Linked DNA regions of Homo sapiens: region 1 is linked to region 2. Evidence: fine-mapped expression QTL. A gene starts in region 2. The other region holds a variant in brackets. All regions are shown on one strand. Distances are from middle to middle. Region 1 overlaps FGFR2 (fibroblast growth factor receptor 2). Region 2 holds the start of FGFR2 (fibroblast growth factor receptor 2).

Evidence for each region.
Region 1: its variant is fine-mapped to the expression of FGFR2 in blood mononuclear cells (TOPMed, PIP above 0.99).

What each region holds. Positions count from the first base shown.
Region 1 is chr10:121,519,103-121,521,853 of GRCh38, forward strand. It overlaps FGFR2 (fibroblast growth factor receptor 2), which reads right to left. Exons shown (of 18, transcript NM_000141.5): 7 at 877-1,067. Among named protein-coding and RNA genes, the nearest start is that of FGFR2, 78 kb to the right of the region's middle. The variant C/T (reference allele first, on the strand shown) is at 1,179.
Region 2 is chr10:121,596,972-121,599,988 of GRCh38, forward strand. FGFR2 (fibroblast growth factor receptor 2) reads right to left here and starts at 1,473. Exons shown (of 18, transcript NM_000141.5): 1 at 991-1,473. RefSeq lists an enhancer at 1-679.

The DNA of each region.
Region 1 (2,751 bases), 78 kb before region 2:
GGAATTATTAGCTGGTGAGAACACTTCATTGGCTGAAAGTTCTTAGCTGGGTCACCTATGGTTCTACTGGAAGAATGTTCTTCTTAAGGACATTCATTCTCCATGAGCAACTAGACATGGGAGGCGTGGTAGGCAAGGAGTTAAGAGCCAGCTGTACAGACTTAGCTGCCCCTGTCCTCAGTCTCCTGAAGAGCAAACCTAGATCTAAAAAAGAGGCAGATGCTATGAAAATGGGGGCTTGCAAATAAGAAATAAGGAGGGAAAGATATTTTCCTTGTTCAACATTTCACTGGTGCAGAAATATGACCTAGAGTTTATTGTCTAAATCACCTCTGAATGGATTTCAAAGGTCAGGGTTTTGTTTTGTTTTGTTTTTGTTAAAAAAAAAATCCAAATTGTTTCTAAAACGTGGCTACTAAAATTGGATCCTAATGTCCTATTAATAGAAAACAACATCAGAGTAACAATCAACACTGGCACAATGCCTTGAGCCTACAAAGCTCTTTCCATCCACTCCATCCCATTTATTCTGCACAACCGCCCTATGGGGGACAGAGTATCACGATCTCTACTTTTATAGAGGCGCAGCTAAGCCTAAATGTCTGCGATCTCAGGGCTGATAAATAGCTGAACTATTCTCTCTCCAAGTTTAGTAGTTCTTCCCCAAGTTTAGTAGTTCTTCCCCTACTCCATAGTTCCCTTCTGAAATTCTACTAGCAAGTGTAATGATCTGTTAATTCCTTAGAACACTCTCTGCTGGCTAGTCAAAAAAGAGAATCATCCTCTCTCAACTCCAACAGGAAATCAAAGAACCTGTGGCCAAACCCATGAAGGAGACCCCAGTTGTGGGTACCTTTAGATTCAGAAAGTCCTCACCTTGAGAACCTTGAGGTAGGGCAGCCCGTCGGGCCCGTATTTACTGCCGTTCTTTTCCACGTGCTTGATCCACTGGATGTGGGGCTGGGCATCACTGTAAACCTTGCAGACAAACTCTACGTCTCCTCCGACCACTGTGGAGGCATTTGCCGGCAGTCCGGCTTGGAGGATGGGCCGGTGAGGCGATCGCTCTGGTGGAGAGAGGGAAGAAAGGAGGAGTGGGGATGGGAGAATGAGAGACCAATAAATAAGCTGTGTTGTCCAGAGGGCTGTCAGTGACCTCATGCCAGAAAAGCCTCAAG[C/T]CTGCTGGCTGACACCTTTGAAATAACACTGTGGCCCCATGAATAACAGAAACGACTTCAAAGGAGACTGCCGGAGCGCGACCCTTGTAAAAAGAACACTTACTTAGAAAATTGAGAAAAGAACTTATTACATCCCAGGTTATTGGCTGTCCACTGCCACCTGATGAATACGGGAAGAAATTCTACTCTGACAATCTAAGTGACAAATGGTAGGGGAGGGAAGCTTCTTCACTTATCCTATTTGAGATAATCTCAAAAACTCACCTCAACCACAAGCTTAACATCACAGGCAAATGACAAGACTAACTTTAAAGACACTCTGAATACCAAAAATGGTTTCAATAGGCACATGTCTCCCAATACATTTTTTTTTCTTTTCTCAGACGGGGTCTCACTTCATTGCCCAGGCTGGAGTGCAGTGGCATGATCACGGCTCACTGCAGCCTCAGCCTCCCAGGCTCAGGTGATTCTCCAACCTCAGCCTCCTGAGTAGCTGGGACTACAGGCAACCGCCACCACGCCCAGCTGACTTTCAAATGTTTTATAGAAAGAGGATTTCATCATGTTGCCTGGGCTGGTCTCAAACTCCTATGCTCAAGCGATCCACCTGCCTTGGCCTCCCAAATTGCTGGGATTACAGACGTGAGCCACCACGCTCGGCTCCAGTACATTTCTAAGATGCTCTGAGAAGACTTCCAACCTTTGTTTTAAAAATTAAACTAAAGCCTAAAGCCCAAAGTTATGAACAGATTTGATTAATAATGGGATTCACCTCTTTATTGTGGAATTCACTCCATTCATTCATTCTTTATTCACCCATTTAGCTCTTTGATGAATATCAGGTGTTACTCTATGCCAGTTACTAAATGCACAAGTAGATGTTTCTTAGCTTATTCCAATATGGCACTGAATGAAACATAAGGAGATGCTGGTTTCCAACTCCTGGCTATGTTTTAGACTGCCCTATAAAAGGGCAGAGATGGTATCCCAAAATTACTTCCTAGCTTCACTTGTCTTGCCTCTCTCTCCTTCGAGAACACGTTCTCAACAAAGAATACACCCTCTCATCTTATGCCTGGAAAGGCTTCTCTCCAGCTAAGAGGCGGTCTCTGCAAAACTTTTGTGGAGACAATCAAGCCAAGGTGTGCTAGCAACCACACATGAGACTCCTCAAGTGTTAAGTAATACCCATGGAAAAATGGGCTAAGGACTTAACTATGCATTTCTCCAAGACACAAATGGCCACTAGGTGTATGAAAAGTTTCTCAATGTCACTAATCATTAGAGAAATGCAAATCAGACGAGATCGGGCGCGTTCCAAATCAAAACCACAAGGAGCTATCACATGACACCTGTCAGGATGGGAAGAAAAAAAAAAAAAGACAAGTGTCGGCAAGGATGTGGAGACACTGGAACCCCTGCGCACTGTTGGTGGGAATATAAAATGATGCAGCCACCATGGAAAACAATATGGAGGTTCCTCAAAAAATTAAAAACAGAACTACCCTAAGATCCTGCAATCCCACTTCTCTATTTATCTAAAAGAACTGCAATCAGGATCTGCACTCCTATA
Region 2 (3,017 bases):
GAGACAATGGAGTTTTAAATGTTGATAGCGTTTCACACCAAACACATAATGGGTGCCCTGAGTTTGAAAGCAGGTTTGCCTTTAAGGGTAGGTTTTATTGAATTGGGAGAAAGGAAGGAGGGTCTGGAGAACGGTCTGCAAGGGAGCGGGGTGCGAGGAGAGCGACGGAGGCTGGTGGTCCCCGAGCGGGCCTCCTGCGCCAGGTCCGTGGTCCGCGAGGGTCGGAGCCAGCGCCACGCAGGGCCCTCGGCTTTTTTCCCCAGCGCGGCCCCGTGGCCGAAAAAAATGAGCGCGCAAGTTAGAACTCGCCTGCGCTTTCGACATCTCCCAGCCGCTGCGGCAGAGCAGGCAGGCGAACTAGAAAAAGTCGGTCCAGTTCGCCCCCTAGCCCCAGGCGCACTGCGCTCCCTCCAGCGCCGACGGCGGCTGCGGGCGAGGGGCGCCCAGGCACCGGAGCCGTCGCCTCCCCAGCAGTGCCACCCCTGGCCATCGCCACCCCTACGGGATGTCACCGGCCCCACCCCAGCGGCCCCCTCCCGAAAAAGGGGTCTCCGCAGGGCCTGGATGGTACGGAAGTTCCCAGGACACACGGATGGGGCACCTCGGAGATGACCCCGGGAACCGGCCTGCGGGGCTGTGCCACGGGCAGGCGAACCTTCCGCCCGTCTGCTCTGGGGTCGGAGAAACGCGCCCAGTCAGCGGGAATGCGCCCGCCAGGGTTTGACAGGGAGGGGGGCGTCAACGCCAGAAGCAGATGTCAGCATCTGGATGGGGGTAGCAGAGGCAGAACTTCCAGAACGCCGGCCGTCAGCACGCACCCACCTCCCCCATCACCTATGCAGCCACAGAGGGAGGACACGGAGCGTCCTCCACAATGCTAGTCCTTCCGCGCCCCCCGCCCGGAGGACGGTGCACCCGGCGTCCCGGGCTCCCGTGGCGCCCACGTCCCCGGCTGGCGAAGCTCCCCGAGGCGTCTTGCGCGGCGATTACCTTGAATGGCAACGCTCCTCCGCGACCTGTGTTGTCCCCGCGCCCCGCGTGGGTCGGGATGGAGAAAGCGACGAGCCCGGGGTTGCGGGGAGCAACTCCAAACGCAGAAGAGTGGTCCTTGGGTCTTCGCCGGCGCCAAGCCTCCCGGGCTTCACGCGTACCCCAGGCTGCGGAGGAGCGCGGGCATGACGCCCGCGGGCTGCCCTCGGATTTGGGGAACGAGAGGAAGAAAGGACTCAGGCTTGGCGTTGCCTCCACCAAACTTTGCTCGCGAGTTGCGAAGGCTCAGAGCGCGCAGGCAAGCTGCGGCCTCGGGGCCCCCGGGGCTCGCGGCCGGCCCCCGCCAGCCCGGAGAGCAGTCGCCGCGCCGGGCCAGGTACGCCGCATGCAGCCCCGCGGCGCCCGAGCTTTGTGGCGGCCGCGCGCGCTCCCTCGCCCGCTCCGCACCCGCCGCCCGCCCGCTCGGCTCTCCACCGCGCTCTCCTCCAGCCGCCGCCCGCGCCGCCGCCGCCGCCCCCGCCTCCTCGCGGCGGGTCACGCCCCCACTGAAACCCGAGCCGTTTCCTGGACGGCGGCGCCCTCTCTGCCAATCAGCGCCGCGCGCCCGGGCCGCCCCGAGTCCCGCGCGGCTCCCGACGCCTCCGAGCAGCCGGAGACACCGGCCCGGGAGGCGAGGGCTCGGCCGCGATGCGGCCGTAGGGATGCAGCGACAGCCTCCGAATAAGGCCTGGTCCCGCGCCCCGCGCCACCTCCTCCCTCCTCCCCGGGCGAGCGAGGCTGGCCAACGGCTCGCTGAGCGACTGCGTTACGTTGTTTTATGTCAAGTTAGAAAACAAATGACCGAAGGCTCTAACCCTGCCCTCCCGCTAAAGAGACTTTAAAATGCGCCTGCTTGATACTGCGGGGAGGGTTGCCAGGCAGCTGAAGCTTTTGGAGGAGAGGAAGCCACTTGGAAATGTTCGCAGGACATTGCATGTTTCTGTCCTTCTAAACAATAGAAATGAGAGGAAAAAACTGAATATTAATGGAGGCCCTACTATGGGAGGGTCACACTACATAGGTGATTCTATTTCATCTGCCCAACCACCCTGCAGAGTACTATTCCCAGTTTCTGATAAGGAAACAGGATCAGAGAGGTTAAGTAATTTGCCTAGGACCACACAGCTGGCTACTAGGACAGCCTGACTTTGAATGTGGCTCTCTCAGAAAAAGCCAAAATTGCATCAAAAAAAAAAAGTGTTTAATAATATATGTTTGGATTAATAAAAAGAAATTCAAAGGAGTCTAAAGACAACTCTACCATAAATAGACCTTGAACAAAGTAATTCCTCCCTCTGAATCTTAGATTAAAAATCATAAATGCAAAATCTGATTCTTCAACTGCACACCAAGCTGTAACTGGTTAAAGTTCCTATGTCCATTTACCTTTTCACTAAGCCGTGTCTTCGGAATAATTTATTTTAAATATGCTTTTTCTCCCTCCTTATTCATCCAGCTCCTGAGCAGCCGTGCTTAAGTTCAAGACCATATAGATTAAAACCTTAATTATTTTTCTTTAGAAAAGGTCACTAAACCCAGAAATGCTTTAGAATCCTTTTGAGGCCTGAAGATAGATGAAGCATTGAGAACAAACCTGACTTGGAAAACAGACTTTTCCTGGATTTAGAAACATATTTGCACCTGTGTCACTAACATTGCACCCTTCATAACATTTACAAAAATATTTTTCAAGGTGCTACATGATTAGAAAATCATTTTTATTCACAAATATAGCACAGAAAACGTTTATGCAAGTTATTTAAAAGCCACACAAGTAAGAAATCCATTTAACTGCCTCAGGCAAAAGGCTATAACATTGTATTTTGGAAATTTGATAGCAACAAAATAAAAACTGGTTCTTAAGCAAAATTATCCCTCTATATGCTTGGTGGGAGGGTATGTTTTTGGTCAAGTCCTCTAACCTGGATTAGCCCCAGAGCCTATACATTAACGGACACCTCAGCCCAGGTTGACACTTAGCCATTCAC